Linked DNA regions of Homo sapiens. The protein of the gene in region 2 purifies or fractionates together with the protein of the main gene of each other region. This does not show direct contact. Each region holds a gene or a part of one and is shown on either strand. Other genes may lie near its edges. The genes, in order: PAPOLA, SYMPK, FIP1L1, WDR33, VSIG1, USP24 and P3H1.

The links.
Region 1: the proteins of SYMPK (region 2) and PAPOLA purify together in Homo sapiens (co-immunoprecipitation; one study listed by IntAct). This does not show direct contact.
Region 3: the proteins of SYMPK (region 2) and FIP1L1 purify together in Homo sapiens (affinity purification with mass spectrometry; 2 studies listed by BioGRID and IntAct, with this or other methods). This does not show direct contact.
Region 4: the proteins of SYMPK (region 2) and WDR33 purify together in Homo sapiens (affinity purification with mass spectrometry; 4 studies listed by BioGRID and IntAct, with this or other methods). This does not show direct contact.
Region 5: the proteins of SYMPK (region 2) and VSIG1 purify together in Homo sapiens (co-immunoprecipitation; one large-scale study listed by IntAct). This does not show direct contact.
Region 6: the proteins of SYMPK (region 2) and USP24 fractionate together in Homo sapiens (co-fractionation; one large-scale study listed by BioGRID). This does not show direct contact.
Region 7: the proteins of SYMPK (region 2) and P3H1 purify together in Homo sapiens (co-immunoprecipitation; one large-scale study listed by IntAct). This does not show direct contact.

Annotation. Positions count from the first base shown.
Region 1 is NC_000014.9:96,525,798-96,530,437, forward strand, and holds part of PAPOLA (poly(A) polymerase alpha), read left to right. Parts: intron 1-1,632; coding exon 1,633-1,742; intron 1,743-2,155; coding exon 2,156-2,209; intron 2,210-4,640. UniProt on the Homo sapiens protein: Polymerase that creates the 3'-poly(A) tail of mRNA's. Also required for the endoribonucleolytic cleavage reaction at some polyadenylation sites.
Region 2 is NC_000019.10:45,845,720-45,850,359, reverse strand, and holds part of SYMPK (symplekin), read left to right. Parts: intron 1-1,483; coding exon 1,484-1,610; intron 1,611-2,358; coding exon 2,359-2,608; intron 2,609-4,640. UniProt on the Homo sapiens protein: Scaffold protein that functions as a component of a multimolecular complex involved in histone mRNA 3'-end processing. Specific component of the tight junction (TJ) plaque, but might not be an exclusively junctional component. May have a house-keeping rule.
Region 3 is NC_000004.12:53,386,915-53,391,554, forward strand, and holds part of FIP1L1 (pre-mRNA 3'-end-processing factor FIP1), read left to right. Parts: intron 1-2,894; coding exon 2,895-2,959; intron 2,960-3,606; coding exon 3,607-3,714; intron 3,715-4,094; coding exon 4,095-4,225; intron 4,226-4,515; coding exon 4,516-4,584; intron 4,585-4,640.
Region 4 is NC_000002.12:127,719,992-127,724,631, reverse strand, and holds part of WDR33 (pre-mRNA 3' end processing protein WDR33), read left to right. Parts: intron 1-188; coding exon 189-299; intron 300-1,284; coding exon 1,285-1,379; intron 1,380-1,587; coding exon 1,588-1,674; intron 1,675-1,901; coding exon 1,902-2,041; intron 2,042-2,643; coding exon 2,644-2,796; intron 2,797-4,278; coding exon 4,279-4,640. UniProt on the Homo sapiens protein: Essential for both cleavage and polyadenylation of pre-mRNA 3' ends.
Region 5 is NC_000023.11:108,047,537-108,052,176, forward strand, and holds part of VSIG1 (V-set and immunoglobulin domain-containing protein 1 isoform 2 precursor), read left to right. Parts: intron 1-4,640.
Region 6 is NC_000001.11:55,069,112-55,072,364, reverse strand, and holds part of USP24 (ubiquitin carboxyl-terminal hydrolase 24), read left to right. Parts: coding exon 1-48; intron 49-440; coding exon 441-551; exon of another isoform or gene 552-806; intron 807-906; exon of another isoform or gene 907-967; intron 968-3,253. UniProt on the Homo sapiens protein: Ubiquitin-specific protease that regulates cell survival in various contexts through modulating the protein stability of some of its substrates including DDB2, MCL1 or TP53.
Region 7 is NC_000001.11:42,759,780-42,764,419, reverse strand, and holds part of P3H1 (prolyl 3-hydroxylase 1 isoform 1 precursor), read left to right. Parts: intron 1-1,944; coding exon 1,945-2,097; intron 2,098-4,640. UniProt on the Homo sapiens protein: Basement membrane-associated chondroitin sulfate proteoglycan (CSPG). Has prolyl 3-hydroxylase activity catalyzing the post-translational formation of 3-hydroxyproline in -Xaa-Pro-Gly- sequences in collagens, especially types IV and V.

The DNA.
Region 1 (4,640 bases), on a different chromosome or scaffold from region 2:
GTAGCCACATTTTATCTGTTCAGTAGCCACATATGGCTAGTCGTTACTGCATTGGAAAGTACAGATACAGAGTAGTTTTTCTGTTGGAGAGCTCTTTTGTACAGTGCTGCTATCTACATATATATCATTTTCCCTCACCAGAAGAATATCACTCTGGAAATAGAACAAAAATGAATTCTAGCTTTTAAGAAAACTCATGGATGCCCCCCGCTAATACCTTTATAGACAAATTATAAAATATAGCTAAGCAAAAGCAAACCCCAAAAATGTGTATTCATAGCCAATGATAATCAGTTAATAGTTTATACTTGTAGTTATTTCCTCTATGCAAATAAATACACAATAAAAATGTTACCTCGGCAAAGAACATTTATTGAGCTTCTTTTCTTTCACTGAGTACTGAGATCTTCATTATCTTATTTAGTTCTTCCAGTACTGTTATTCTCACATAACAAACAGGAGCCTGAGACTAAAAGAGGCAATAAAGCTTGAACAGTTTTTCTCAACCTTCTAGTGGCAGAGTAGGTACAACTCAGGCATCCCGAGGCTGTACTGTCTTTGGGTCTTGCTCTGTTGCACAGGCTGGATGCAGTGGCACAGTCTTGGCTTACTGCACCTTCCACCTCCTGGGCTCAATTGATTTTCAGGCCTCAGCCACCTGAGTAGCTGGGACTACAGGCACACGCCACCATGCCTGGCTAATTTTTTAATTTTATTTTGGTAGAGACAGGGTTTTCCCGTGTTGTCCAGCTGGTCTCGAACTCCTGGGCTCAAGCCATCCACTTGCCTCGGCCTCCCAGAGTGCTGGGATTACAGGCATGAGCCACCACGCCCAGCTGAGGCTGTATTCTTTAACCATGAACTGTATCTGCCGAGATAGTGTTGTCTGTTTTCTAGTATCCTTTCCTCTCTCCATCTCCCATCACTCTGTCCCATTAGTACATTACTTTTGATATATCCTGTGTGCTGTACACCGTTCTTCCTGTTCTAATAAATAGCTTTCAGAGTCATACCTCAGCATCTTGTCTTTTAGGAAAATGACTGTTGACCTGATTCCACATTAATCTCTCCCTTTTATGACCCCAATTGATTTTAATTCTCCTTTTTAAAATTCTGCCTATGTACTTAGTGCTGGCCTCTTATCAAGCACTGAATTAATGACAAATATTTTACCATTGTCTACTTCTTTGGATTCTTCTGCTTGAAGTTTATTTTGTAGGTCCCATTTAGGGGCCTGGTAGAGAACCTATAAGCACCAAATACGTAGTACATAGAGGAAAACTATTTTTGTTTTACCAATGAACATGGCTATGACTAATGACATCAAGATGTTGGGTGTATGTTTGAATAATTCCCTCTCCACCATGAAAGTACTTGCTGAGCCATCTTTCTTTGGGCTCCCAGTTTACTTGGGCCACTATAAATAGAGGATGCTGCAGGATCAAAATATACCACATCAATTAAAATCATGTTTGTCCTCCATTGACTGGTAATTTTAAGTAAGGGGTGGAACATTTTTAGAAGCTCACCAGTATGTTAAACAGATTCTCAACATCAAATACTACCATGATAGGATGCAAAATAATTTTCTTGTAATATTAATTAGTGGTTGATGGGCTTAATTTTTTTTAGGTGCTGATATTGATGCGTTGTGTGTTGCACCAAGACATGTTGATCGAAGTGACTTTTTCACCTCATTCTATGATAAGTTGAAATTACAGGAAGAAGTAAAAGATTTAAGAGTGCGTAAATGTTCGGGGTGAAATGGGATGAGTTATGAACATTCATTTAGTCAGTTGAGTGAATTTTATGATATAGCCATCATTTATTGAGTTCTTGCAATTTGCCAAACCTTTCTAAACACTTGGCATATGTGTTTGTGTTTTATTCTTTACAGCAAGCCTAAAATTATAAACTCATTTACAGATTAGGAAATTGAGGCAAACAAAATAAATATGAAATAATCTGGCCACAATCATACATCTGATGAGTGGGTGAAGTAAAATATTTGAACCTTGATTTCTGATCTGTCTGATCGAACAGCCCAGTCTTAAAGCTAGCTATTTTTGTGTCAGGTGTTTTGCTAAAGTACTAAAACTAGTAGAGGCTTAAAATGTAGTTTCAGAGACCCTGAACTTGTTTACTTTCCTTATAGGCTGTTGAAGAGGCATTCGTACCAGTTATTAAACTCTGTTTTGATGGGATAGAGGTAAGGTATAGTTCAAATTGACAGTTCTTGCTATGTGCTGTCACTAATTTTGATTGATATAGGTTAAAAACTTGGTTTAAAGTTTATAATTAGTGAGTTGGTTGTGATATTAATAACAATTAAGGCTTTTAAATGGAAGTGACTGCCTATTCTTGTAGAATATACCATTTTAAATCTTTTTAAAAATACCAAGTGAAATTTGGAGCTAAAACAGAAGTAATGAAACCTTAAGATTGAAATGCTATTACAAAAAAGTTTTTTTGGTAGCTTTTCCATATGCCAGTTTTGTGTGCTTTTAGTCTCATTAAGGCAGTAGCATAATGTGTTTTTGCAAGTAATGCTTTGCTTTGACTTCATTTAAAAATTGGGAGAAAAGTGTGAGTGCTGAAATATCTTCCGATAGGGGAGGATTTATGGACTCAAATTCTTGAGATGATGTTCATTTCTCCTTGCTGCTTTCGGTGTGTGTAATTAAAGTGATGAGAATAAAGTTGACAGTGAAGCAACTTTAGTAATTCATTACTTTTGCTGTACAGAATGGTACTGGAAAGTCACAGATAATAAAGTGAAGATTGTAACATTTTGGAAACTGTAAGAGAAATAATTTATTGAAGCTGGGCACAGTGATGTGCACCTATCAGGAAGCTGCTACAGGAGGATCTCTTGAGCCCAGGAGCTTAAATCTAGCCTGGCAATGTAGCGAGACTTAATCTCTTTAAAAAATAAAAAAGATAATTCACTGTTGTACTATTTTGCAAAAAAATGGCTGCATCTAAGGTTGCTGCATAAGACGCTCAACTCTGTATTTTATGAAAAGTCAAGTGACTGACCTTAATAAGTAGACATAAAATGTTAAATTTGGTAAAGGATTATCAAGTTCATGTAGTTTTGATTTACTGTCAGTGTTTTAAGTAAACGTAAAAATAATCTGTAATATAAAGTATAAGTTGAGGCCTCATTTTCCTAAAAAGAATATTACTGACAAAGAGGACTTTTTTTTGGAAGGAGACCTGACCTAACTTTGTAAACTTTACAGGATCAAGATGGAAAGTTAGATGGCTACTTAAAACATTTAATGTGTTAATTTTCTATTATACATGCTATATTAAAAAATAATATTTTAGGAACATAATATTTTAGGAAATTTAGTAATCATTTTCACATTTCAATATTTTTTGAAGTAATTCCATCCTTTAAAAAATGTGTCAGTATTATTACTGAGTTGCTTTTTCAGTTACCTAGTTTTATGAGCCTATAATCTTTATTTCTGTCCAAATTGGGGGAGACTTTGAAATCTGTTCTTTTTCATTGAACAGTTTATCCTAGACCACAAGTACTTATTTGTGTAACAGTACAATTTTTTTTCTGTAGGTATGTTTAAATGATATTTTAAAATGTGCTCCTAAAATACTGCTTTTTAAAAAGTGATCTAGTAGCCAGGCACGGTGGCTCATGCCTGTAATCCCAGCACTTTGGGAGGCCAAGGTAGGTGGATCACGAGGTCAGGAGATCAAGACCGTCCTGGCCAACACGTTGAAACCCTGTCTGTACTAAAAATAGAAAAAATTAGCCAGGCATGGTGGCGTGTGCCTGTAGTCCCAGCTACTTAGGAGACTGAGGCAGGAGAATCACTTGAACCCGGGAAGTGGAGGTTGCAGTGATCCAAGATCCTGCCACTGCACTCCAGCCTGGGCGACAGAGCAAGACTCTGTCTAAAACAAAAAAACAAACAAACAAAAAAAAAGTGATCTTATAAAAGGCTTGTTTACAGCGACATCCACATTTTTGGAACCATGAAATCATACCCTCAGGGATAACTACCAAAGCTGTGCTGTTTCTTTGCACTCTCACCTTTCCTTTAGAAAAGAAACAATTTTGTCAGCGGAATTCTATGTCTTCAAAATTAGCCTTAACTGTGGTTGTTTTAGGCTGTACTTTCCCCAGTGTTTTTGTTTTACTTAAAACTCAGTTGGAAAAACATACTGTAGTATTACAGACATAAAAGTTCTCAGATATAATGGAATCTCTTTATTGAGAATTATTTTTGGCTAAATGTAAGGATGTTTGCCTTATATTTGAGTACTATTAAGTTCTCATGTATAATGAGATCTCCCCTTATTGAGAGGTATTTTTGGCTGAATATAAGGCTATTTGCCTAAATTTGGGTACTTTTTAGTATGTAATCAATTTATAATTCATATAGATGAAGAGCTAAACAGTTAACTTTAATTCAGCATATGTATTTACTAGACTTACTATATCCAGTAGATGCATTTAACAAACTTAATACATCAAACTTGATAATTGTGATTAAACTGACAACCAGGTATTTGTACATTTCCATTTCTGTTTTAAAAATATTGCCATGTTTGTTTGTTTTTTTTTTTCTTTTTTTTTTTTCTGAGGCAGGGTCTTACTTTACCCAGGCTAG
Region 2 (4,640 bases):
TTGTTTGACCCTTTAACTGAAGAGAAAACAGTCTCAGAGAGGTGAAGTGAATTTTCTTAAGGTCACACAGCCAGAATGTGGCAAGGCTGGGATTTTATTTATTTATTATTTTTTTGAGATGGAATCTCACTCTGTCGGCCAGACTGGGGTGCAGTGGTGCAATCTCGGCTGACTACAACCTCTGCCTCCTGAGTCAAGTGATTGTCCTCCCTCAGCCCCCCCGAGTATCTGGGATTACAGGTGCCTGCCACCACACCCAGCTAATTTTGTTTTCTGTTGTTGTTTTTTTTTGTTTTTGTTTTTGTTTTTGTTTTGAGATGGAGTTTCGCTCTTGTTGCCCAGGCTGGAGTGCAATGGTGCGATCTCGGCTAACTGCAACCTCCACCACACAGGTTCAAGTGATTCTCCTGCCTCAGCCTCCCAAGTAGCTGGAGTTACAGGTGCCCGCCACCATGCCCGGCCAATTTTGTATTTTTAGTAGAGATGGGGTTTCACCACGTTGGTCAAGCTGGTCTCAAACTCCTGACCTCAGGTGACCCACCTGCCTCAGCCTCCCAAAGTGCTGGGATTACAGGCGTGAGCCACTGCGCCTGGCCAAGGCTGGGATTTTAACTCATGTCTGCAATGCCAGAACCCAAATATCCTATCTCCCCATTTACTGGGAGAATTTGTGGTAAATTTTCTGAATTTGTAAAAAGTCCATTCAGCAAATACATACCATGTGACTGCTGTCGTACCAGGCATCCATGTTAGGCTGTAGTATAGCAGTGAGCAAAAACGTATTATTCCTGCCTTCATGTAGCTGACAGCTAAGTTTCATATTTTTTGACTGATTTAATTAATATTTCAGATTGTAATGTATGCTGTGAAAATTCTGTGCTGAGCTCCTATTTATTCATTGAACATTTGTTGGAGGCCCTTCATTTTTTTCTTCAATGAAAATGACCCTGCTGGGGTTATTGCCAAGCTAGGAAAGGGTCCCTACTTTTTGAGCCCTCAGACTGAGGCAAGCAAAACTAGTGATTACAGAAAACAAAGTGCTTTAAAGTAGCAATGGCTGGTGTTTACCGAATGCTTTTTGGTGTTTACTGAATGCTTTCTGCATGTCAGGCACTCTTCTAAGCACTTTACAAGTATTGTTGCAATTTTCCCAAAAAATTGCATAAACAATTGGATAGATACTATTATTCTAAATGAGGTGAAGTCGCTTGTCCAAATTCACACAGTTGTCTGCCCCTACTGTCCCTTATGTGAACAGCAGGGCCCTGAGAGAGCAAAGGAGTTGGTGTTACAGGACCAGTCTAGATAGAGGGTTCAGGGGCGGCTCAGTCTGGAGGCACCAAGCACTGTTCCCAGCTTCTGGATGTGCCATTCCGGTCCCCTGAGACAGGTCCCTGATTTCCCTTCCCTCCTGGACCTCAGGCTCCTCCTACTTGCTCTAAGACCACACCTTGACCTCGCCCCTTTTTTCTCCATCCCTCAGCAAGCGAGACATTGAGTTGCTGCTGAAACTCATTGCAAACCTCAACATGCTCTTGAGGGACGAGAATGTGAACGTGGTGAAGAAGGCTATCCTCACCATGACCCAGCTCTACAAGGTGGCCCTGCAGGTGAGAGCGCCCTCCCCACCCAGGGCCATCCTGCCTGATATGTCTCGTTGACAAACTAATATGTTGGGGTTCAAAACCAGCATCCGAGCATACTCTTTATGGGCAAGATGTGCCACTGGTCTGTGGGAACAGATAACATGGAGAGCTAACGTTGTCTCCTAGGTCAGGAAGTTGCACTTAACCTTCATTCCTTCCATTGACCATCCGTTTATTCACTCAACAGACATTCCCTGAGTATGTCCTCTGTGCTTAGCCCTGGGCTAGGTGATGCTGGGGACACAGCAGTGACCAAGACAGCTTACTGCCTTCACAGTGCTCATAACCCAAGGAGGGAGGTAGACCTTAATTAATGAATCACATAAATATTGATTATGGAGTGTGATAGGAAAAGAACACTCTATGGTGTGATGTACATTAGCATTAATAAAACGAATGAATCCATTTAATCACCACCACCTTGTGAAGTCAGCACTGTTAGTCCTTTACCCTGAAGATGTGTGCCTTCATCACACTGAGTGGTCACTCTCTGCATCCCCATGAGGGCAGGGCGAGGCCTGGCCACTACTCAGTCCTGTCTCCAGCATCACCGAGCACTGGGCTGGGGCAGAGTTGGAACTCAGTAACTGTTAACCAAATGAATGTATTCATCATTCATGGTTCTCTGGGTATTGGCAGAGGGTGTTGGTGATTGATGCGTTGTCTTCACCTCTTTGTGTGTCTCTTCCATTCCTTCCTGGCCTGCTGGCAGTGGATGGTAAAGTCACGGGTCATTAGCGAGCTACAGGAGGCCTGCTGGGACATGGTATCTGCCATGGCGGGGGACATCATCCTGCTATTGGACTCTGACAATGACGGCATCCGCACCCACGCCATCAAGTTTGTGGAGGGCCTCATTGTCACCCTGTCACCCCGCATGGCTGACTCAGAGATACCCCGACGCCAGGAGCATGATATCAGCCTGGACCGCATCCCTCGTGACCACCCCTACATCCAGTACAGTGAGTACTGCCTTCAGCTGCCACCCCTGACAGCCCTGCACCAGTTTCCTCTCCTTCACGCCCCTCCCTCTCTCCCCCTTGTCTTTTTTGGTTTTAAATTTCTGGAACAGTGTGTGCAGTAGTTAAGATCCCTGGTGCTAGGTTCAGATCCCAGCTGCACTGCTTACTCATCATGAACTTGGGCAAGTTACCTGTCTCTGTACTTCATTTTCTTTTTTGTAAATTGGAGACGATAACATAGTACCACTCTCACAGGTTTGTAGTGAAGTTCCATGAGTGTGAGCCAGTCGATGCTAGCTAGTTTTATGGTTTTCTTTTTTTTTTTTTTGAGATGGAGTCTTCCTCTGTCGCCCAGGCTGGAGTGCAATGGCACAATCTCAGCTCACTGCAACCTCCGCCTTCCGGGTTCAAGAGATTCTTCTGCCTCAGCCTCCAAAGTAGCTGGGGCTACAGGCTCCCGCCACCATACCTGGCCAATTTTTTTAAAAATTATTTTTAGTAGAAGCAGGGTTTCACCATATTGGCCAAGCTGGTATCGAACTCCTGACCTTGTGATCCGCCCGCCTTGGCCTCCCAAAGTGCTGGGATTACGGGCTTGAGCCACCGCGCCGGGCAGTTTTACAGTTTTCTTAACTGCAAATTATAAAAGTAGGACATAGGCCAGGTGTGGTGGCTCATGCTTATAGTCCCAGCATTTTGAGAGGCCAAGGCAGGCAGATCACTTGGGGTCAGGAGTTCGAGACCACCCTGGCCAACATGGTGAAACCCCTTATCTACTGAAAATACAAAAATTAGCCGGGCATGGTGGCGGGCACCTGTAATCCCAGCTACTTGGGAGGCTGAGGCACGAGAATCGCTTGAACCCAGGAGGCAGAGGTTGCAGTGAGCTGAGACTGTGCCACTGCACTCCAGCCTGGGTGACAGAATGAGACTGTCTCAAAAAAAAAAAAAGTACTATATATACACTTGGTGTCAAGCAATATGGGTGAATCAAAAGGAATAATGTCCCCTCCCTCAGTCCTGCTTTCCAGAGATAAACACTGTTAAGAGTATTATGTTTCCTTTCAGATCTTTCCTGTGCACATGTAGGTATTTGTATGTGTATATGCATAGTGTCTGCATTTGTTTGCTTTTCTGTTTGCAAAAATGAGGCCATGCTTTGTGTTTTCATCTCAGAGACATTATAGTAGCTTGTGTCTGACACACAGCCTATTTTCCCTTGTCTCTGAGCCTGATTCCTCATTGGTAAATTGGGGATCGTTATTATGGCATCTAATTTAGGATGTAGGTATGAGCATTTGGTGTATTAATATGGCTGGAATAGTAAACATTCCATAAATATTAACTATTCTTATGTATTGTTTGACAGCCTTTTTGACTTAATAGTATCAGTGACGTCCTTCCCTGTGAGAATCATATAGTTGCTATACCATATTCCATAGTATAGTTACATTACATTCTATTAAGCAATGCTCTGTTGATGGTCATTTAGATTTTTAATTCACTTTTATTTTTTGAGACGGAGTCTCGCTCTTTCACCCAGGCTGGAGTGCAGTAGCGCTATCTCGGCTCACTGCATGCTCCGCCTCCCGTGTTCACGCCATTCTCCTGCCTCAGCCTCCCGAGTAGCTGGGACCACAGGTGCCCGCCACCACGCCCGGCTAATTTTTTGTATTTTTAGTAGAGACAGGGTTTCACTGTGTTAGCCAGGATGGTCTTGATCTCCTGACCTCGTGATCTGCCCACCTCGGCCTCCCAAAGTGCTGGGATTACAGGCGTGAGCCACCGCGCCCGGCCTAATTCACTATTTTAAATAATGTGGCGTTCAAGTCAAAACTACAATGAAATGTCTCACCCCAGTTAAAGTGACTTTTATCAAAAAGACAACAAATGCTGGCGAGGATGTGGAGAAAGGGAAACACTTGTACACTGTTGGTGAGAATGTCACTTACTACAGCCTAAAAATTGTTTGGAGTTTTGAGGTTCCTCAAAAAATTAAAAATTGAGCTACCATATGATTCAGCAATCCCAC
Region 3 (4,640 bases), on a different chromosome or scaffold from region 2:
GGGGCTTTACTGGCCTAACCAGAAACAGAAACTAAGGACTCATGACTGTATTCTCTCCCTTAGACACCCCTAATTAGGTTTTTAGACAGGTCATATCATTTGAAAAGATAACTCTAGCATCAGTAGTTGAGATGGGTTAGATAGAGAGACATTGACTAATAGATGTGAAGTAGTTGTCCAGGTGAGATGATAATCTAGACTAAGGCAGCAGTAGTAGAGAGATGAATGGGAAAATAGTACATTTGAGTATTAGAGAAACAGAAATATAGTCAGGCATGTGGTATACACCTGTAGTCCCATGGACTTGGGAGGCTGAGGTAGGAGGATTGCTTGAGCCTTGGAGTTTCAGGCCAGCCTGGGCAATATAGTAAGATCCTGTCTCAAAGAATAAATAGAAACAAATAACATGGGTAACTGGTTGGTTGTGGATGGAGGAGGAGATAAAGGGCTCAGTGACTTAAAGATTTCTAGAGCAGTTAATTGGGTACAGGTGGGTGCTACTGCTCCCACCTCCCACAAAACAGATTCATTTGACATGTTTATTTTGGAGTTCCTATAGAAAGTCCAAGTATAGGATCTAGCATTTAGAGTGGTCTGAGACTTCATAGGGATCTATTGGACATTATATCAAATTTGCCTCTGCAATTTTTCATACCACTAAGCTTCTCTACACAGGCTTCTCTACAAAGGCTTGTGGCTTAAAAAAGAAAAATGATGTTTTAAAAGGCAGAATGGGGAATAGAAAGTAGCTAGGTGGAAAGCGAAGAAGCTCATTTATTGAACACTTGTGGCTAAGCCTTTTATAAAAATACTGTTTTATTCTATACGGTCCTGTAAGAGAACAGTTTAGAGAAAATCCTTGATTTTTGTACATTTGTAGAAAAATCATGTACATCATATGTAGATACCGCTAAGTCACTTTTTCTGAATTTGGATTGTTAAAATGTAAACATCGTGAAGGCAGGAACCGTAATTGTCCAGCTCCTCATACTTTTTCCTCAGCCTAGAACCATACTTGACATGGTTTGGTGCTCAGTAAGCATTACATGAATTAATCAGCCTATGAAATGATTATTTCAAGTTGGTGACGATAGTACTGCTTGACAGTAGTAATATTTGGTCCACTTTGTAATTTTTGCATTTCTAGCTGTGGAGCTACAGTTATTTGATACAATTAAACATTTTATTGAATTTACATTTTTCTTTTTTAAGTAGAAAAGAAAAGTGACAGTGCAAATGTAACTAAACCTAAGTCTTAAATGTAGTACATCAGAGACAAAAGATGGAAGTAATTATTATTAGACCCAAAGCAGTGAATCTGAAGTCCAGATGGCTGAAGTTCTGAGAGAAAAGAACCAAATATATAACATGAATATAATGTGAGAAATATATCATTATAAACATCTGTGACTTGAGGTCTTACTGATATCTTTTTTTTTTTTTGAGATAGAGTCTCGCTCTTTTGCCCAGGCTGGAGTGCAGTGGCGCGATCTCACTGCAAGCTCCGCCTCCTGGGTTCACGCCATTCTCATGCCTCAGCCTCCTGAGTAGCTGGGATTACAGGCGCCCACCCCCATGCCTGGCTAGTTTTTTCTATTTTTTAGTGGAGACGGGGTTTCATGGTGTTAGCCAGGATGGTCTTGATCTCCTGACCTCGTGATCCACCCGCCTCGGCCTCCCAAAGTGCTGGGATTACAGGCGTGAGCCGCCGTGCCCGGCCGTCTTACTGATATGTTTTTGTTCAGTGGGAGTTGGTCCTTCTTTGCCCATTCCCGTTTTCTTCTAACTTCCCTAGTAACAGAAAAGTCTCTTTTAATTAGTATATTTGATAATACTACTCATATATAAGAATCCATTATATAAAGAAGTAAAGAACTGTCTGTAACCCCGTATTACAGAAAATGTATACAAGGCTCATTTATACAAGTAAAAATGCAATGAATTATTCAAATAATTGTATACAAGTCTTAGGTGTTTTGGCCAAGATTACACAACTAGCAATTGACAAAACATTTGAATGTGGGTTGGTCCAACTTCAGATATTTTTTTCTTTATCACTGTGTATTATATTACATCTAAAAAGGTGCAGCTTAATATTTTTTCAAATATATACATTCATGTAACTACAGCCAGATCAAGATATGAAACATAATTGGCATCCTAGAAGTTTCTCTCATTTTGCCTCTTGGTCATTAACCACCCACCACCGGCAAACACTGTTCTGCTTTCATGCTAGACTTATTTTTGAATTTCTTGTCAATAAATTTCTGTTATGGACTGAGTACTCCATGAATAGTTGAAAAAGGATTTATTAACAATATCAAATGCAAGAAGAACTGAAAGGCCACTAGATTTGACAACAAGTTGGAGGAATTTTACTTATGCTTAAGAGTGCTGTATATTTAATAACTGGGAGGCAAGGAAATGAAGACAAGGGGTGTAAACTATTTTTCCCTTCTTAGCCTTATTTCTTGTGAAGTTTGTTACAGTAGAATGTTGAGTTATTGGCAAAAAGGTTTTTGAAATGGAAACAAGTCAGGCTTTTTTTTTTTACTGTTTTTGCCTTTTATTGAGCAAGTGACTTTAAAAATCAGTTTAAAATGTTTTTTAAAATATGTGTTAGCTGGGCACGGTGGCTCACTCTTGTAATCTCAGCATTTTGGGAAGCCAAGGTGGGAGGATTGCTTGAGCTCTGGAGTTCGAGACCAGCCTGGACAACATGGTATGAGATCTCATCTATACAAAATTTAAAAAATAAAGATAGAAATAAAATGTGTGTCACACTATCCATTTACTATGTGATTGTATAATTTGTTTGTACAAATGGAATATATTACTGTTTTGTTTAAGCTTTTCAGGATAATTTCTGTTTTTTTTTGTTTGTTTGTTTTTAGGAGTTATGGTACAGCACCTGTAAATCTTAACATCAAGACAGGGGGAAGAGTTTATGGAACTACAGGTAAAATTTGTATTTTCTGTTGCATCAATAGGGAAATAAGGCACATATCTTAAATAGGTCTTAATAGCTTTTTTTTTTAGTCGGGGACAGAGTCTGGCTCTGTCACTCAGGCTGGAGTACAGTGGCGCAATCTTAGTTCACTGCAACCTCCGTCTCCTGGGCTCAAACCATCCTCCCACTTCACCTTCTCAAGTAGCTGGGACTGCGGGCGTGCACCACCATGCTTGGCCAATTTTTGTATTTTTATGTAGAGACCAGGTCTCACCATGTTGTTCAGGCTGCTCTTGAACTTTCGAGCTTAAGTGATCTACCTGCCTTGGCCTCCCAGAGTGTTGGGATTCCATGTGTGAGCCACTGCGCCCGGCCAAGGTGATAATAGCTCTTTTTAAAGAGTAATTTTTGACCGTACATCACAGAGACTGGTAAAGTTTTTCTGGCAAGAGTCCAGTAGCACGTATTTTAGGCTCTGCTTTGTTTGGAACCCTTGCCAGGTTTTTTGCCAGGAATAGTAAAAAGATGTTTGTTTTCTGTTTGTGTGTGTATATGTGCCAGGAATAGTAAAAAGGTGTTTATATTTTCTGTTTGTCTATGGTATCGCCTGGCTTCTTGCAAGTATAGCTCCTTCATTTTGTAATTTTATAAAACAGGGACAAAAGTCAAAGGAGTAGACCTTGATGCACCTGGAAGCATTAATGGAGTTCCACTCTTAGAGGTAGATTTGGATTCTTTTGAAGATAAACCATGGCGTAAACCTGGTAAGATTATTGTGGATTATATTAATTTCAATATTTTCAGTGTGAAGTCATCAGAAAATTTTTTTGAACATCAATTTAGAATTTTATTTTTTCATTATAATTTTAATTGTCTTAAGCAAATGATGAGTAATAATGACTTGGGATTATTAAATCTTACTGGTGGCCTTGTATTACTTAAAATGTAGACTTATTGTTTATTATAATGGCGTTTGTAAAGGGAATAATTTGATCAAAAATGATATAGTCTTTTTGCCACCATAAATGATAGAGTGATAACTGATAGAACTCTAAATTTATATTTTTATAGTTTAGTATATTTTTGATGCTGCATAAAAATAGAGCTGAAATATTTGTACACTAAAGTTGTGTTTTATCTTTAGGTGCTGATCTTTCTGATTATTTTAATTATGGGTTTAATGAAGATACCTGGAAAGCTTACTGTGAAAAACAAAAGAGGATACGAATGGGACTTGAAGTTATACCAGTAACCTCTACTACAAATAAAATTACGGTAATTAATAAATACTCCGGAATACCCTTGGCTTGTCTACCGTCCCACTTTTACTCCCCAAATAAATCGCTTCCCTATAAAAGTGGTTAAATGCTATATGATAGTTTAAAAATTCCATTTTGTTTACCATGTTTGTTTTTCCCTTCCCTCCCTTTTAGAGTTTCGTATTTAATGATTATCTGATGTTCTTACTTTCAAATCACAGACTAGCCACAGCTAGTTTGTCTTTATATGGCCTATTAATTAAATATTATGTGGTATCTTAATGGGGAATATGTTATTTAACTTAGGCCGAAGACTGTACTATGGAAGTTACACCAGGTGCAGAGATCCAAGATGGCAGATTCAATCTTTTTAAGGTGAATTTTAGTAAATTATCCTTGGTTGCTCTCATTTTTTGTTCTTGAGTCTGCTC
Region 4 (4,640 bases), on a different chromosome or scaffold from region 2:
TTGGATGAAAGGGTAACTGTCCTTTGGCAATGACAAGCCAATACCCCGAGACATGTGGAATTCACCAGAGTCCAAGTCCAGGCTTTGGTAGCTTCATTTTAAGAGTAACAGAAAATGTCTTTTTTGAGGGGGAGGGAGAAGCTGGGTAACTTTTGTGAACAAATCTTCTCTCTTTGGTGCTGTTGCAGGGTAGAGAAGGAAGTGGGTGGGATGGAGATGGCTCACGAAGGGATGATCTGGAGTCTGGCTTGGCATCCTCTTGGGCATATTCTCTGCTCAGGCTCAAATGACCATACTAGGTAAGCTTTATATTGAAATAGCAAAGCTTTATATGGAGCAACAGGAAATAAATACTGTATGTGTTTATTTTTATTGGTTGATTGATATAGTAATTTATATTCCAACTTATTCTTGGGAATATTTTTGTAGTGGTTTACAAATACTTATATTGCAATAAAGAGATTGGGTATTGAATATGGTTTTGGCTATTCAAATTTTGTTTTGCCTTCTGACTTAAAACAGAAGTTTTCCACTTTTATTTATTTATTTATTTATTTATTTGAGACAGGGTCTCTGTCCAGGCTGGCGTGCAATGGTGCGGTCTCAGCTCACTATAGCCTCAACCTTCCTGGGCTCAGGTGATCCTCCTACCTCAGCCTCCTGAGTAGCTGAGACTATAGGAGCACACCACCACACCTGGCTAATTTTTGCATTTTTTGTAGAGATGGGGTTTCACCATGTTGCCCAGGCTGATGTCAAACTCCTGGGCTTAGGCAATCCTCCTGCCTCAGCCTCCCAAGGTGCTGGGATTACAGGCATGAGCCACCTTGCCCGGCCCCACATTTTATTTTTATTTTTATTATTATTTTAAGAGACAGAGTCTCACTCTGTCACCGAGACTAGAGTTCTGTGGTGAGATCACAGCTCACTGTAGCCTCAAACTCCTGGGCTCAAGCCATCTTCCCGCCTTATCCTCGTGAGTAGCTGAGACTACAGGTGTGTGCCACCACACCCAGCTAACTTTTTAATTTTTATTTTGTAGAGACAGGGTTTCGCTATGTTGCCCAGGCTGGTCTTGGACTCCTGGACTTAATCCTCCTGCCACAGCCTCCCAAAGTGCTGGGATTACAGATGTGAGCCAAAGTGTATGACCTCACATTTTAAATTTGTAGAAGAAACAAATTGTAAAAATGTGTTGTGTTTACCAAGGGTCTGCCTAGTACTGTTTAGTGCCCAAAAAAATAGTGAAGCCATGCTTCTTTTCTCCTTTAATTATTTTTACAGCAAATTCTGGACTCGAAACCGACCAGGTGATAAAATGCGAGATCGATATAATCTAAACCTTTTACCTGGAATGTCTGAAGATGGAGTAGAATATGGTGAGACTCTTGCACATCTGTCCTTCTTTGAAATCTGGTATTCTATTACAGAAGTGTTAGATGTTGGGAAGATTATACAAAATGAATTTTAATTTTATAGTAGATTTATTTATAAATCATCAGTGACATTCATTTTTATAAAGCATTAATTTTATCAGTCGCTACTTTTGTAAATTCTCTATTGACAATGGTGTATTACTATTTATAGATGACCTCGAACCTAATAGCCTGGCAGTAATTCCAGGAATGGGAATACCAGAACAACTAAAATTAGCTATGGAACAAGAACAGATGGGTAAGAGAAGTTACACAGACACATTTAATTTTTACAAATTTTTTCTTGACCCGTTTATGTTCCTGATAAATATATTGAAATACCAAAATGATTTATGTTGAGAAATGTTGATAAAAATTATATAAATGACATAATACTTAAAATCTATTCTTCCAATAATGTGTTCATTGATCAAGTGGCCAATTTCTTTTATTTAAGAGGCAAACCACTTTTCTTTACGGTTACAGGGAAAGATGAATCAAATGAAATTGAAATGACAATTCCAGGTTTAGATTGGGGAATGGAGGAAGTGATGCAAAAGGATCAGAAAAAAGTACCTCAGAAGAAAGTTCCTTATGCAAAACCCATTCCTGCTCAGTTCCAGCAGGTAAGTAAAAGTGACTCCACCTCATCCACGCAGAGAGGTTTTGGTTGGTTAGTTTGAGGTTTCTCTTGGATTATCTCACTGTTGAAGGTGTTTCTGTACTGGAGCATTTTTCCCATGTTCACGTACTCTTAGACATGGTTCTCATCTACTGCTTTGCAGTTGTATTGAGTTTGTTATCAGTCTTCTCTGTTCTGTCCTCACCTGCTTATTATCATCCATGCTATGAGAGGAAATAGAAGAAAGAGGCATGGAGCAGAGGGAGTATGGGAGTATGTTGCTTCTCTTCTCCATTGTTTATCTATCTTGTGCTTTAATTGTCCCCTCAACACAAAGTGCATGTACCCTGTGAAGAGGCTGGCAAGCTTTGCATTCTTAATAACATGCAGTGTCTTGCAGCTTTTATCACCATAGTAATTTCTACCTAGTAATATGTCAGTAAGAATTAGCATGAGTCATGTACTTGAGTCATGGAGAAAAGGTAAAAAGAAATAAAATCGGTTCAGAGGTTAGATTGAGCAGATGACATTGTAGAGTGGTTTTCTCATTCTATCATTGTAATTTTCATACTTAGCGTACATTTTAATATTCTCTTCTTTCCCAAGGCTTGGATGCAAAATAAAGTTCCAATTCCTGCTCCAAATGAGGTGCTGAATGACAGAAAAGAAGACATTAAATTGGAAGAGAAGAAAAAAACACAAGCAGAAATTGAGCAAGAAATGGCTACATTACAATATACTAACCCACAACTTCTGGAGGTGTGTGAAGCTCTGTAGGGGGGAATTCAAGATGATCTAAGAGGGTAGTGGTGACATTTTTATTGATAGGCTCTTAAGGAAAAGGGAAGGGGCTCTCCCATGGTCTGACAAACACCGCCATTTCCTGTTGCTATGCTAGAAGACTAGTTTCCAAAAGAATCCTGTTTCTTAAAATTTTTTAAAATGTGTTATTTATGTATTTTGTTTTATTTATTTTATTTTAGAGACAGAGTCATGCCCTGTCACCCAGGCTGGAATGCAGTGGTGCGATCACGGCTTGCTACAACCTCTGCCTCCCAGGCTCAAGTGATCTTCCCACATTAAGCCTCTTGAGTGGCAGAGACCACAGGCATGCACCATCACGTCTGACTAATTTTTTTTTAAGTGACTTCCTTGAGTCATATCTTGGACTTTTAAAACCCAATTAGGGTCAGGCGTGGTGGCTTACACCTGTAATCCCAGCACTTTGGGAGGCCGAGGCAGACAGATCACCTGAGATCAGGAGTTTGAGACCAGCATGGTCAACATGGTGAAACCCCACCTCTACTGAAAATACAAAAATTAGCTGGGCATGGTGGTGCATGCCTGTGGTCCCAGTGACATGGGCGGCTGAGGCAGGAAAATGGCTTGAACTCCAGAGGCAGAAGTTTCAGTGAGCCGAGATCGTACCACTGCACTCCAGCCTGTGCCACAAAGTGAGACTCTGTCTCAAAAACAACAACAACAACATAAAAAAACTGAATTAGTGGGGCAGTGAGTAGATCTAAGTTAAATATACATTTTTAATAGAAAAGATAAAGCCAACATAGTTTTAATTTGAATTCACCTGTTTATGAAAGAGTTTTTCCTTTTTGTCTGCTCATATAGCAGGTAGCTTGTTCTTATTTTTCTTATCTATGTTAGCTACCAAGAATGATGAATTAGTGGTGAATTATTGGGCTTTCCCTGATCAAGATGGACAAAAATAATCCTGACTAGGCCAGGCACAGTGGCTCACGCCTGTAATCCCAGCACTTTGGGAGGCGAGGCGGGAGGATCAGCTGAACCCAGGAGTTTGAGATCAGCCTGGGCAATATAGCAAGACCCTGTCTCTACAAATAATAATTAGCTGGGTGTGGTGGCATGTGCCTGTAGTCCCAGCTACTCCGGAGGCCGAGGTGGGAGGATCACTTGAGCCCAGGAGGGTGAGGCTGTAGTGAACCACGATCGTACCACTGCATTCCAGCTTGGGGGACAGAAAAAAAAAATAAGGAAAAAAAAATCCTTACTACTGTGTCCCAGGACTTAAAAAGAATGAGAAAGAACCTAAAACTCCTTACAGTGCTTGAGTGTTGCATGGACTCTAATTACCACTGGAGCGTGAAGAGTTTGAGCAGTTTTTATGTTTGAGAGTCCCCTAACAGAATACATGATAGCAATATTGTCATCTTCAAGGGCTCTGGCCTGTTTATTCAACATGCTTTTTTCTTTCTTTCTTTCCAGCAACTTAAAATTGAAAGACTTGCACAGAAACAAGTTGAGCAAATTCAGCCTCCTCCCTCATCTGGCACCCCTCTCCTCGGACCCCAGCCTTTTCCAGGACAAGGTCCAATGTCTCAGATTCCTCAAGGTTTTCAACAGCCCCATCCATCTCAGCAGATGCCAATGAACATGGCTCAAATGGGGCCTCCAGGTCCACAGGGACAGTTTAGGCCTCCTGGACCCCAGGGACAAATGGGACCACAAGGTCCTCCACTGCATCAGGGAGGTGGGGGGCCACAAGGATTCATGGGACCACAGGGGCCCCAGGGCCCGCCCCAGGGGTTGCCACGGCCTCAGGACATGCATGGGCCCCAAGGAATGCA
Region 5 (4,640 bases), on a different chromosome or scaffold from region 2:
AAAAAAGTGAGTGATCATTTGATTATATTATTTCCTAAGTCAAAATGAATCTATTATATATGAAGTTGCTGGAAATTAAATCACTTCAAATCTATCAGATTAAATATGAATATTTGGGGGATATTTTGCTGTGGTACATTAGGAGGATAATAATCCTTCTATAAGCAAAATGTTTGCCACCTTGTAGGCATTAAATGAATGAACAATCACCACCAAAATACAAGACATTCTCTCTCTCTCTCTCTCTCTCTCTCTATATATATATATATATACATATATATATACATATATATACACATATATATATACATATATATATACACATATATATATACACATATATATATATACACACATATATATATATACACATATATATATACACATATATATATATACACATATATATATATATATACACACACATATATATATATATATATATATATATATATATATATATATACACATATATATATTCTTTTGAGACGAAGTTAAGTCTTGTTGCCCAGGCTGGAGTGCAATGGCACGATCTCGGCCCACCGCAACTTCCGCCTTCCGGGTTCAAGTGATTCTACTGCCTCAGCCTCCTGAGTAGCTGGGATTACAGGCATGCACCACCACGCCCGGCTAATTTTGTATTTTTGGTAGAGACAGGGTTTCTCCATGTTGGTCAGGCTGGTCTTGAACTCCCAACCTCAGGCGACCCGCCCACCTCAGCCTCCCAAAGTGTTGGGATTACAGGCGTGAGCCACTGCGCCCAGCCTAAAAATATTTTTAAATGTTGATTAAGTGTGTACATCTTGGATTATTTTTCTTTAATAATAAGCACTTTTTTAATTATTATTATACTTTAAGTTTTAGGATACATGTGCACAACGTGCAGGTAAGCACTGGTTTTTAAAAGAGATTACACATATTTCAACCACATATGCATTTTTGTTTTGTTTTTAAATTTGGTCAAGTCAGAGAGGGACATTGCGTTCTTGGGTTTTGTTTAAATCAGATACTAATCTTTACTTTGCTATTTATTCACAGTCCTATTGATGTAGAGATTTTTCTGACTTATTCAATTTTTAAATAATTTCTCAACTTAGAATGACTTAATCCAAAGGAAGGGAACTTTTTTCCCTGACACTCAGAGAATCACCTCCACTTTAGGACTAAGTTTGCACTGCCCATTGTCTACATGTGGCTATTGAAATTTAAATCACTTCAGATTAATGAAAATTATAAAGTCAGTTCCTCAGTTTCACTAGCCACATTTCAAGTGTTTGATAATTCTATTTGGGCTACTGAACTGGATGGCGCAGAGATAGAACATTTCCATCATCACAGGAAGTTCTGTTGGACAGCACTGTAAGGGTGAGCTCAGAGGTTTTAAGTAATGTGCACTAATTGAATGATGTGACATTTTAAAAAGGCTCATCTGGAAATATATAACTTTTAGCTCTGAAGCATATCATCACTATATCATGGTTGGACAATGTCTGAAAAACATCTTTTCTTCAGAATTTAATTGGTTATGGTGCTAAGAATTGGGAATCTGGGCAATAAAATGGCCTGGAGGTTTTGCTTTGCCAACTGTTACTTATTTACATGACAATGTGTAGTACCTCAAAAAATATTGTCTCACTTTAAAATTTGAAATTACCATCCTAATTCCAAGGTGATATTATTAAACTTTTGCAGATTTCTAATTAGTTACACATTTATATATCTTCTATATTTAAAATGTTAGAAATGTTTGAATCAGATTTATATTTTCCAAATCCTTGATTTTCATTCACCTCTATTCTCATCTGTGCTATAAATGGCTTCCTGCTGCACTGAGGGATGGCAGAGATTGTGTCTGTCATGTTCATTCTTGTTTCCCCAGTGTTCAGCACTGTTTGTGGCACAAAATGGGTGCTCAATTGATATTTGTTGCTAGGCTCCACAGCCTCTTCCATGGCTTGACTTGTGTGAGTACTGTGTGTACTCTGCCATCAAACACTTTTTCCAAGAGTGGTCTTCAAAGGGGGTTTGTGGGGTTTTGTTTATTGTTTTGCCTTATCTGTTCATAAATTCTCACCCTTAACCAATCTCGTAACAGATACTGGGTCCCAAACTAGAGAACAAAAATTATGGCCAAATAATATCTCTAAAATCTCTGTTTTTAGGGAATAAGTCTGGGAACTTTAAGGGCTACCAAAACCCCAGTTTTATCCTTTTTATTTTGGACACTTTAAAGACATTTGGAAGTCATCATTTAAGCACGGCCAGAGATGTGGCTAACTTCCAGGAGAAATGAAATGGGCTCTTTGAGGGTGGGAGGGAACCATCTTTCTCCAGTGAAGTTTTTGTTGGAAAGATTAGCTGCTTTCTGAAAGCCAATTTCCTTTTTGGAGGAGGCATTATGGAAACCAGGAAAGCATGGGGAGGAGAATATTGGGAAGAGGGAAACTGTATGGAGTTAAAAAGTGCTGCATTTTTGTTTGCATTCAGGCACTTTTCTTAATTTATCAGTGCATTGGTTGCCATGTAAACAGCCAGCTTCTGGCAGGAAAGCAGCTGGACCAGGTGACCTGGCTGTGACAGAGAACACAGATATTGAATCCATGAAACCAAGAGTAATCAGTACAACGATTTTTTTTCTTTTACTTTTTAAAAGTGTTTGTCAATCCTTTAAGTTCTTTTTGTCTGACTGCTGTCATTAAGTAAGAAAAATATGAAATAAATAAGTCTTTGGGTATGCAAAATTGGGAAGATGGACAGGAATTAGTCCCTCTATGCAATTTCCTCTGAATCTTTCATAATTTCTGTATCCTCATCCCTTCACCCTCAACCCTCCAACACCCTCTGTTACCCTGCAGGCAACTAGGACAGCATAGAGAGCGTCTCTTGAACTTGACTTTCTCTTCCAGTGCTTGCCTGCCAATCCCGTGACCCATCCTGGAGAACTTTTATAGTCTTCGACAATGCAATGCATAGCAACCAGTTAATAAGATAAGACAGTGACTGTATAGTGCTCCCCAAAGTGCCATCACCTAAAATAGCCCTTTGGAAAGTGCTCATATAGAACTGAGAATTTTAGTGTAGTGGCAGGCTGGATTTGGGTAGGGTGCCCTTCGGTGGGCCTCCAAATCCTATGGGGAGCTTAATTACTTCATCTTTCTGTAAGGCCAACAGTTCTCAAAATTTGTGGTCTCAGGACAATTTTACACTCTTAAAAACTGAGGGAGATTTCTGGTCTGGACATGTAGTACAGACCTGTTTTTCATTGTTCCTCCCTGCTAAGCACAAGTATAAACCCTGGAAATAATGCAAGAGACAACCAGGGTAGAACTCTGGAAGGTTGTAAGGAGAAGGCAAACTGGTTTGAGACCCAGGGAAAAACAAAGAGCAAGGGTATCCTATGTTTCCCACCCAGCAGAAGAAAGAAACCTAGTCCTGGCCATTCCTGATACCCAACTGAACAACAGAGGGCAGCCCAGGTAAGCTTACTCCTCCCTCAGAGTCCCTCTGACAACATCAGGTAGGCCCAACACCACAGGTAAGGGGGGATCTTCAGAAACCCCACCAACAACAGTGGACAAAAGAAGCATTTGCCTTCTCCCCAGGCCTGAGATGTCCCACTTTCACCTAGAGATATCGAGGTGGGAGGGTAGAACAGACACGAGGCATAAAGTGATGGCAAGCGGCCCAGTCTGGGAAGGCTCTGTCTCAGTGGGTGTATGACTGTCCTCTCCTACCCATAGAGACACCAACAGTGCAGGGCGCCAGTAGAAGTGTCCCACCATACCTACCCCAACTGAGAGGCACCTGGAAGCCTGACCTAGGGAAACCTTTCTGCTCCTTCAGGCGATATGATCTGGGACAAATGTCAGCCTCAGTGATATCCGATAAACCAAACAGAGCAAAACAATACTGAAAATTAAACTGCTGTTAGAACAACAGACCACAAAAGTAAGCCAACACCTGCTTGCATGTGAAGCATAAATAATGTGACTGACTGCAAAAATAAAAAATGTAAATATGAGTTTCCTAACATAGTAGACAAAATGTTCAATCAAAAATCATCTGTCATACCAAGAATCAAGTAAATCACAACTTGACTGAGAAAAGGCAACTACTGCCAACATTAAGATGAGTTCGATGTTGGAATTATCTGACAAGGATTTCAAAGTAGCCATCATAAAAATGCCTCAACAATCAATTAACATTATCTTAAAACAAATAAAGAAAAAAAAGGAAACTTGCAGAAAAGAAAAAGAAGTTATAAAAATATAAGAAAGAAGGAAATTCTGTCATTTGCTACAGCATGAATGAACCTGGGGGACATTATGCTAAGTGAAGCAAGCCAGACACAGAAAGACAAACACCACATAATCTCACTTATATGTGAGATCTAAAAGAGTTGAACTCAGAATTAGAGTAGAATGGTTACCAGGGACTGTGGCTTGGAGGGAGTGGGAAATGGGGAGAAGTTGACCAAAGGGTACAAAGTTCCAGTTAGACAAGAGGAATAAGTTTTTAAGACCTATTTTGCAGCATGCTCACCATAGTTGATAATAATGTATGTGCATTTCAAAACTGCTAAAAGCATAAGATTTTAGTCTACACATTGGGTACAGTGTACACTGTTCGGGTAATGGGGG
Region 6 (3,253 bases), on a different chromosome or scaffold from region 2:
AATGAAACATCAACTGGAAAAACCTTTCAGCGAACCATTTCAGCTCAGGTGAGAGTTGTCTCTTGTTTTTGCGTGGTCTAAATCACTTATGGAGGATTTTCAGTGTGTTTCTCAGAAACTGCAACCTCTGAGAAGAGAGGTATGAGTTGAAGATGAGAACAAGCAGAAGAAACAATTGGATTTCTATGAAAAGAAAACAGATTGGTGTACACTTACACAAATTTGTGCAGATTATTTGTCTAGAAGGAAAGTCATACAGGTTGGGCAGTCTGGTCACAAAAAGGGACAGGGGTTGAGGGGGTTCTGGTGACTGTGATGAAGGCCTCACTCTCAGGCCTCCGGTCCCACTGAAGGTCAGATGAAAGGTAGTCTTCCCTGGCGGTTGCTGCTGCCACTGAATGGGCCCTAACTTTGTCGTCTTGTGTTTGAATCTTCTGCAGGACACGTTAGCGTATGCCACAGCTTTGTTGAATGAAAAAGAGCAATCAGGAAGCAGTAATGGGTCGGAGAGTAGTCCTGCCAATGAGAACGGAGACAGGCATCTACAGCAGGTATAACGGTCAGCATGTCCTTGTGTGCAAAGGGCAGCCTTGCTCTTAAGCTTTCCAAAAAGAATTTCCACAGCTGAGGGAAAACAAGATGCTTCCTCTGGAATGTGAGTCCAAAGAGTTACCAGCGCTGCCCTCTAGTGATCTCAGCTCAGCATATGCACTAACCGTGTGTTTACAGGGCTGAGTAGTGCTGCAGTGTGAAGTGAATGGAAGGCCTCGAGGTGTTTGTGGCTGGCCACCCTGATCAGCCTGCAGGTAGTCCCGATGAAGCCAGGGCACAGGGGGATTCGTTCCAGCTTGTTCACTTTATTCTGCCTTGCCAGGTTACTGAAAGTCCCTCGTTTGCTCTCACCAGCCTTCCTGGAAATGTGGACTCTTGAAAGAAAAGCTCCCGTGCTCTTGAAGTATACCTGCTTGCCAGGGGAGTCCAAGAAAATTTTGACATGTATTTTTAAAAAAAGAAAAAAAAACAGCTTTAATACCAATCATTATAGTAGAAAAAGAAAATAAATATGTATTGAACACCCACTGTGTGCAAACACTGAACTAAGTGTCAGTTAATCATTACGTCTTTCCAATAGTCTGTAACTTTCCTTAACAGCAGTCTCCTCTGTGGTCCCTTCACAGTACTTGGTACAGAATAGGCCCCATTAAATGAATGTTACTGATGTAGTAGGTGTCATTTTTTTTTAAGTGTTATCTTTCGGATCCTCATAAGCACTATGTGAGGCAGCTGTCACCCTGATTTTACAGAAAGGTAACTGCAGCCCAGCACAGTGATGTGACTTAGCCCAAGGTCACTCCACACATTACCTCATCACCTACTTCATTTGCAGAGAAAATAAAAGCTGTCACAGGAGAGCTCCTGCGGCCACTAATTCCCAAGCATCTGCACTGTTCTTGTCTCCTCTCCTGTGACAGTGGGAAGTTTGCCTCTGTCCACCCAAAGCCCCTAGCGCTCATCCCCGCCCACCTTGGCAGAGCTTTGCGTTCTAATGTGTATGTAACTCTTCAATATCCAGAACGCTCCACCCTGCCAGACCCTTCCCAGCGACGTCTCAGCACACTGGTTTCTCTTCTGCCCTGTCAAAGCCTCTCTTCTGCCCTGTCAAAGCCTCTCTTCTCCCTGTTGCCCCTGCCTTCTTTTCTCTTCTTTGCAGCCAAACTTCGACTAATTCTCTAAACTTAACTTTCCCCATTTTCTTATCTCTCACTCGCTCTTCAGCCTCTTCCCTGCTAACTCCCTCTTCTCTCCAACTCAGCAGTTGGGGTGACAGGTGGCCTGCAGCTTTCAGGCCTCATCTTAGCCGACTGCTCGGCAGCATCTAGCGCTCCTGGCGCTCTTCCCGTTTGAAACACTATTCCAGGGCTTTCCTGACACTTCTCTCTCGTAGTTTTCCTCAAACCCTTCTGGCTGTTCCTTCTCTGTCTCCTTCCTAGTACTGCCTCTTCTGGACCACCAGTAAAGGTTTGTGGAGTCTCTAACCTGTATCCTCCTGCCCTCACTCCATATTCTCTCCGCACCCACCTTGGATTTCTGAACATGAACATCCAGCTCTCTTGTTCTTGACGTTCTCCACTTGGCATACCTTAAAGACCTCAGACTCGATGTGCCCAGCCCCTCCTCCCTGCGCCCACCAAAGCTGGCCCTCCGTCAGTGTTCCTTATCTCACACACAGCACCCCCATGTCATCCCGGACAGCTCCCTTTGAAAGGGTGCTCGTCCCTCTCCTCCACCTGTCATCAGCCCCTCTCTGCCTACATCTGTAAGGATCCCCTCACCTCCACCCCTGCTTCTCTCTGGTTCATGCACTAAAACCTTTCAAAGGCTTTGTATGAGGAGAAAAGCCAGAATCCTCAACACAGTCCTGCTTGATCTAGCACCTGCGCACCTCCCCACCCCCATTTTCTGATTTTTTTTTTTTTTTTTTTTTTTTTTTTGAGATGGAGTGTTGCTCTGTCACCCAGGCTGGAGTGCAGTGGTGCAATCTCACCTCACTGCTACCTCCTTCTCCCAGGTTCCAGCGATTCTCCTTGCCTCAGCCTCCCAAGTAGCTGGGATTACAGGCATAAGCGACTGTGCCTGGCCCATTTTCTGAATTTTATTTATCAAATGTACTCTCTTCCTTCCACCTCAGGGCCCCCCTACTCACCCCCAACTCTCACTCAGCTTAGGTTGTCACTTTAGAGAGACTGTCCTTGCTCCTCCCCACCCCAGCTCCAACTAGATCAGCCCCATGGCACACGGTGAGTATTCAGAACGATTCGCCAAGTGTGTAAGCCAAAGGCCACACAGATGGTAACAGAGGTAGCCTTCAGACCCAGGAGTGACCCAGAGCCCATATTTGGCAGGTGCAGGGCAGGGAGGCTCACACAGTGCCCAACGTGAAGCGGGCACAATGGCCATCAATGCCTCTCCCAGCTTTATCACTGCTCTGCGTTCTCACATGGGTGCAGAGTAGCATTGTGACTTTAGACAAGTCGCTGGGTTGTTTCACTGACTAAATGAGATCATAGAAATGTACATGTTTTACATAATCATGAATTGTCAAATATTAGATGTAATAGTTATCACATTTTATTACCCTTTGATAAACATTGCATTAAGTTGCCAGATGAAGACATGTTTAAATTGCAGAACACAAGTCAGCATAGAAAACCTTTTCTCTAACCGTATGAACTTTAACTTCCTTTTCTTTTCT
Region 7 (4,640 bases), on a different chromosome or scaffold from region 2:
TGGAGTCTCGCTGTTGCCAGGCTGGAGTGCAGTGGCGACCTTGGCTTACTGCAACCTCTGACTTCTGGTTTTCTGGTTCAAGTGACTCCCCTACCTCAGCCTCCCGAGTAGCTGGGATTACAGGCACGTGCCATCACATCCGGCTAATTTTTGTATTTTTAGTAGAGATGGGGTTTCTCCATATTGGCCAGGATGGTCTGGATCTCCTGACCTTGTGATCCACCTGCCTCGGCCTCCCAAAGTGCGGGATTACAGGCGTGAGCCACCGCACCCAGCCCTCTTTTCTTTTGAGACGGAGTTTCGCTCTTGTTGCCCAAGCTAGAGTGCAATGGTGCGATCTCGGCTCACTGCAACCTCCGCCTCCTGGGTTCAAGCGATTCTCCTGCCTCAGCCTCCTGAGTAGCTGGGATTACAGGCACATGCCACCACGCCCAGCTATTGTTGGTCTCAAACTCCTGACCTCATGATCCGCTGGTCTCAAACTCCTGACCTCATGATCCGCCCGCCTCAGCCTCCCAAAGTGCTGGGATTATAGGCGTGAACCCCCGTGCCTGGCCACGGCTGGTCTCTTTGATACCAGTGTCCACATAGTTAATTACTAGATCATCAGTGATTTATTTGGTTGGATTCTATATATGAAACCTGTGTTACTTTGACATGCTGGAGTCCATTGCTGTGGGCATTGTGGTCTGTAGCCTATTTCTCCCCCCTTGGATTTCTTTTTTTTTTTTTTTTTTTTTTTTTTTTGAGACAAGAGTCTCGCTCTGTCACCCAGGCTGGAGTATGGTGCTGTGATCTCGGCTCGCTGTAACCTCCGCCTCCCGGGTTCAAGCGATTCTCCTGCTTCAGCCTCCCAAGAAGCTGGGATTACGGGTGTGCGCCACAACGCCCAGCTAATTTTTGTATTTTTAGTAGAGACGGGGTTTCACCATGTTGGCCAGGCTGGTCTCAAACTCCTGACCTCAAGAGATCTGCCCCCTTCGGCCTCCCAAAGTGCTGGGATTACAGGCATGAGCTACCGCCCCCGACCACCCCCTCAGATTTCTTAGAGCTATTTGTTTGAACCTCATGAGCCCTGAGCTTTGAGTCAGAAAATACTATGTCTGGACTTAGTAAAGGACCTTAGAATTTTTAGCCATCCACCTTTTCCCTAAATGTCTCAAAAATTCTTCATTTTATTTTATGCAAAAAAAAATTTTTTTCTAGGAAAATTCTTAGGCATAGTCTGTTAGCTGCTCTTTTTTCTCTACCCCTAAATCCTTGAAGCCACAGAATTTCTTCAGCTCAGGCATTACATTTGATTCATGAAATATATATATGTATTTTTTTTTTTTTGAGTCAGGGTCCTGCTGTGTCACCCAAGCTGGAGTGCTGTGGCACCATCTTGGCTCACTGCAACCTCTGCTTCCCAGGCCCAAGCGTCCTCCCACCTCAGCCTGCAGAGTAGCTGGGACTACAGGCATATAGTACCATGTAATTTTTGTATTTTTCGTAAAGACAGGGTTTCACCATGTTGCCCAGACTGGTCTTGAACTCCTGAGCTCAAGTGATCCACCTGCCTCGGCCTCTAAAAATGCTGGGATTACAGACCTGAGCCACCGCACCCAGCATGAAAACATATTATGTGGGCAGTCAGTCTTTCACAGCACTCCCCATACAATATGACCTTTGTTTTAAAATGGAACATTGCTACTTCCTGTAATCTGGGGAACCCCTAAATCTGACTTGGGAAAGAGCTACAAATCTGCCCAGGGCACTATGCTCCTAATCTGTCGTGGGTAGTTCCTGCAATAGGTGTGCTTCCTGGGGCTGGCAGGGGCTGGGCACGCTGAGTGGAGGGCTCAGGGAGGCAGGGATTTCCTGTTTATGTGGACTGCTCATGTGGACACAAACGTTCAGAGATTGGATGTGAGCATTATCCACCTTCTCATGCTTCATTCTTAGATCAACAAGTTGGAGAAAGCTGTTGCTGCAGCACACACCTTCTTCGTGGGCAATCCTGAGCACATGGAAATGCAGCAGAACCTAGACTATTACCAAACCATGTCTGGAGTGAAGGAGGCCGACTTCAAGGATCTTGAGACTCAACCCCATATGGTGAAAAAAACTTTATCCCCTTCTTTCTTTCTTTCTTTTTAAATTTATTTTAGAGACAGAGTCTTGCTCTGTCACCCAGGCTGGAGTGCAGTGGCTTGATCATAGCTCACTGTAACCTCAAATTCCCGGACTCAAGAGACCCTCTAGTCTCGGCCTCCTGAGTAGTTGGGACTACAGGCATGCATTCTTTTGTTTTTTTTTAAATGACATTACTAAGGTTGTTTTCTAATTACATTACAGAAGTAATGAATGTTCATTGTATAACATTGTAGAAATGTAGGTAAGTATAAAATAAAAAGTAATCATTTGTAATACCGCCACCTTAAGAAAACCAGTTTATATTTTGCCCTATTTTTTAAGTCTTCCGTATATAATTTTTTCATCTAATTTGGTGTTATATCATGTATGCATTTTTTATCATCTTTTTTATTTTTTTTGAGGCAGGGTCTCACTTTGTTGTCCAGGCTGCAGTGCAATGGTGTGATCATAGCTCACTGCAGCCTTGACCTCCTGGGCTCAAGTGATCCTCCCGCCTCAGCCCCACAAATAGCTGGGACTAGAGGCATGCACCACCATACCCAGCTATTGTTTTTATTTTTTGTAGAGACGGGGTCTCACTGTGTTGCCCAGGCTGATTTCAAACTCCTGGCCTCAAGCGATCCTACTGCCTTGGGCTCCCAAAGTGCTGGGATTGCAGGTGTGAGCCACCATGGCCAGCCCCATCATCATTTTTTAACTAACATTATTATCATGAGTCTTTTCTCATGTCTTCAGTTTTATTTGAAAACATAATTGTTTATGGCTGCATGATAGTCCATCTTATGCAGAGACTATATTAATTCACTAGTCACATTTTTTTGGTCATGTATGTTTTTGATTTTCACTACAATAAATGTTACAGTATCCTTCAATGTTCTCATTCTATTTGTTTAGCAGGAAAAGTTCCAAAGGAGGGACTGTCTGTGATGATATAGCATTTTATAGAGAGTTTATGGTTCCTTACATTTTAATTATAAAATAGGAATGTTAGAAACAATATAAGAATGACTTATAGGCCAGGCGCAGTGGCTAACACCTGTAATCCCAGCACTTTGGGAGGCCGAGGTGGGTGGATCACTTAAGGTCAGGAGTTTGAGACCAGCCTGGCCAATATGGTGAAACCCCATCTCTACTAAAAATACAAAAATTAGCCAGGCATGGTGGCATGCACCCGTAATCCCAGCTACTCGACATGGAGGCAGGAGAATAGCTTGAACCTGGAAGGTGGAGGTTGCAGTGAGCCAAGATTGTGCCACTGCACTCCAGCCTGGGTGACAGAGCAACAGTCAAAAAAAAAAAAAAAAAAAGAATGACTTTTAAAAGTAAGTTGTGGCCAGGTGCAGTGGGTCACACCTGTCATCCCAGCACTTTGGAAGGCCAAGGCGGGCGGATCACAAGGTCAGGAGATTGAGACCGTCCTGCCTAACATGGTGAATCCCTGTCTCTACTAAAAATACAAAAATTAGCTGAGCGTGGTGGTGTGTGCCTGTATTCCCAGCTACTCAGGAGCCTGAGGCAGAAGAATCGCTTGAACCCAGGAGGCGGAGGTTGCAGTGAGCCGAGATTGTGCCACTGCACTCCAGCCTGGGTGACAGAGCGAGACTCCATCACACACACAAAAAAAAGTAAGTTGTGTTGGCCGGGCGTGGTGGCTCATGCCTGTAATCCCAGAATTTTGGGAGGCCGAGGTGAGTGGATCACTTGAGGCCAGAAGTTCAAGACCAGCCTGGCCAACATGGTGAAATCCTGTCTCTACTAAAAATACAAAAATTAACCAGGTGTGGTGGTGTATGTCTGTAATCCCAGCTTCTCAGGAGGCTGAGGCGCTAGAATCACTTGAACCCAGGAGGTGGAGGTTACAGTGAGCTGAGATCATGCCACTGCCCTCCAGCCTGGGCTGTCTGTCTCAAAAAAAAACTCTGTCTCAAAACAAAACAAAACAAAAAGTAAGTTGTGTTTATTTGAAAACTGTTAGCCCTACAAAAAAGTGCAAGAACCTAGGCCAGGCACGGTGGCTCATGCCTGTAATCCCAGCACTTCGGGAGGCCGAGGCGGGCAGATCACCTGAGGTCAGCAGTTCAAGACCAGCCAGACCAACATGACAAAACCCCATCTCTACTAAAAACACAAAATTAGCCAGGCGTGGTGGCGCATACCTGTAATCCCAGCTACTCTGGAGGCTGAGGCAGGAGAATTGCTTGAACCCTGGAGGCGGATGTTGCAGTGAGCCAAGATCGCACTATTGCACTCTAGCCTGGGCAACAAGAGTGAAACTCCGACTCAAAAAAAAAAAAAAAAAAAAGTGCAAGAATCTGTCACTAATGGGGGGGGAAGAAAAGTACAAGAAAATCATAATGAACTCCTAGATATCTTTCATCTAGATTAAGAGTTAAATGTTTTTTGGCCAGGCACAGTGGCTCACACCTGTAATCCCAGCACTTTAGGAGGCCGAGTTGGGAGGATTGCTTGAGGTTAGGAGTTGGAGACCAGCCTGGCCAACATGG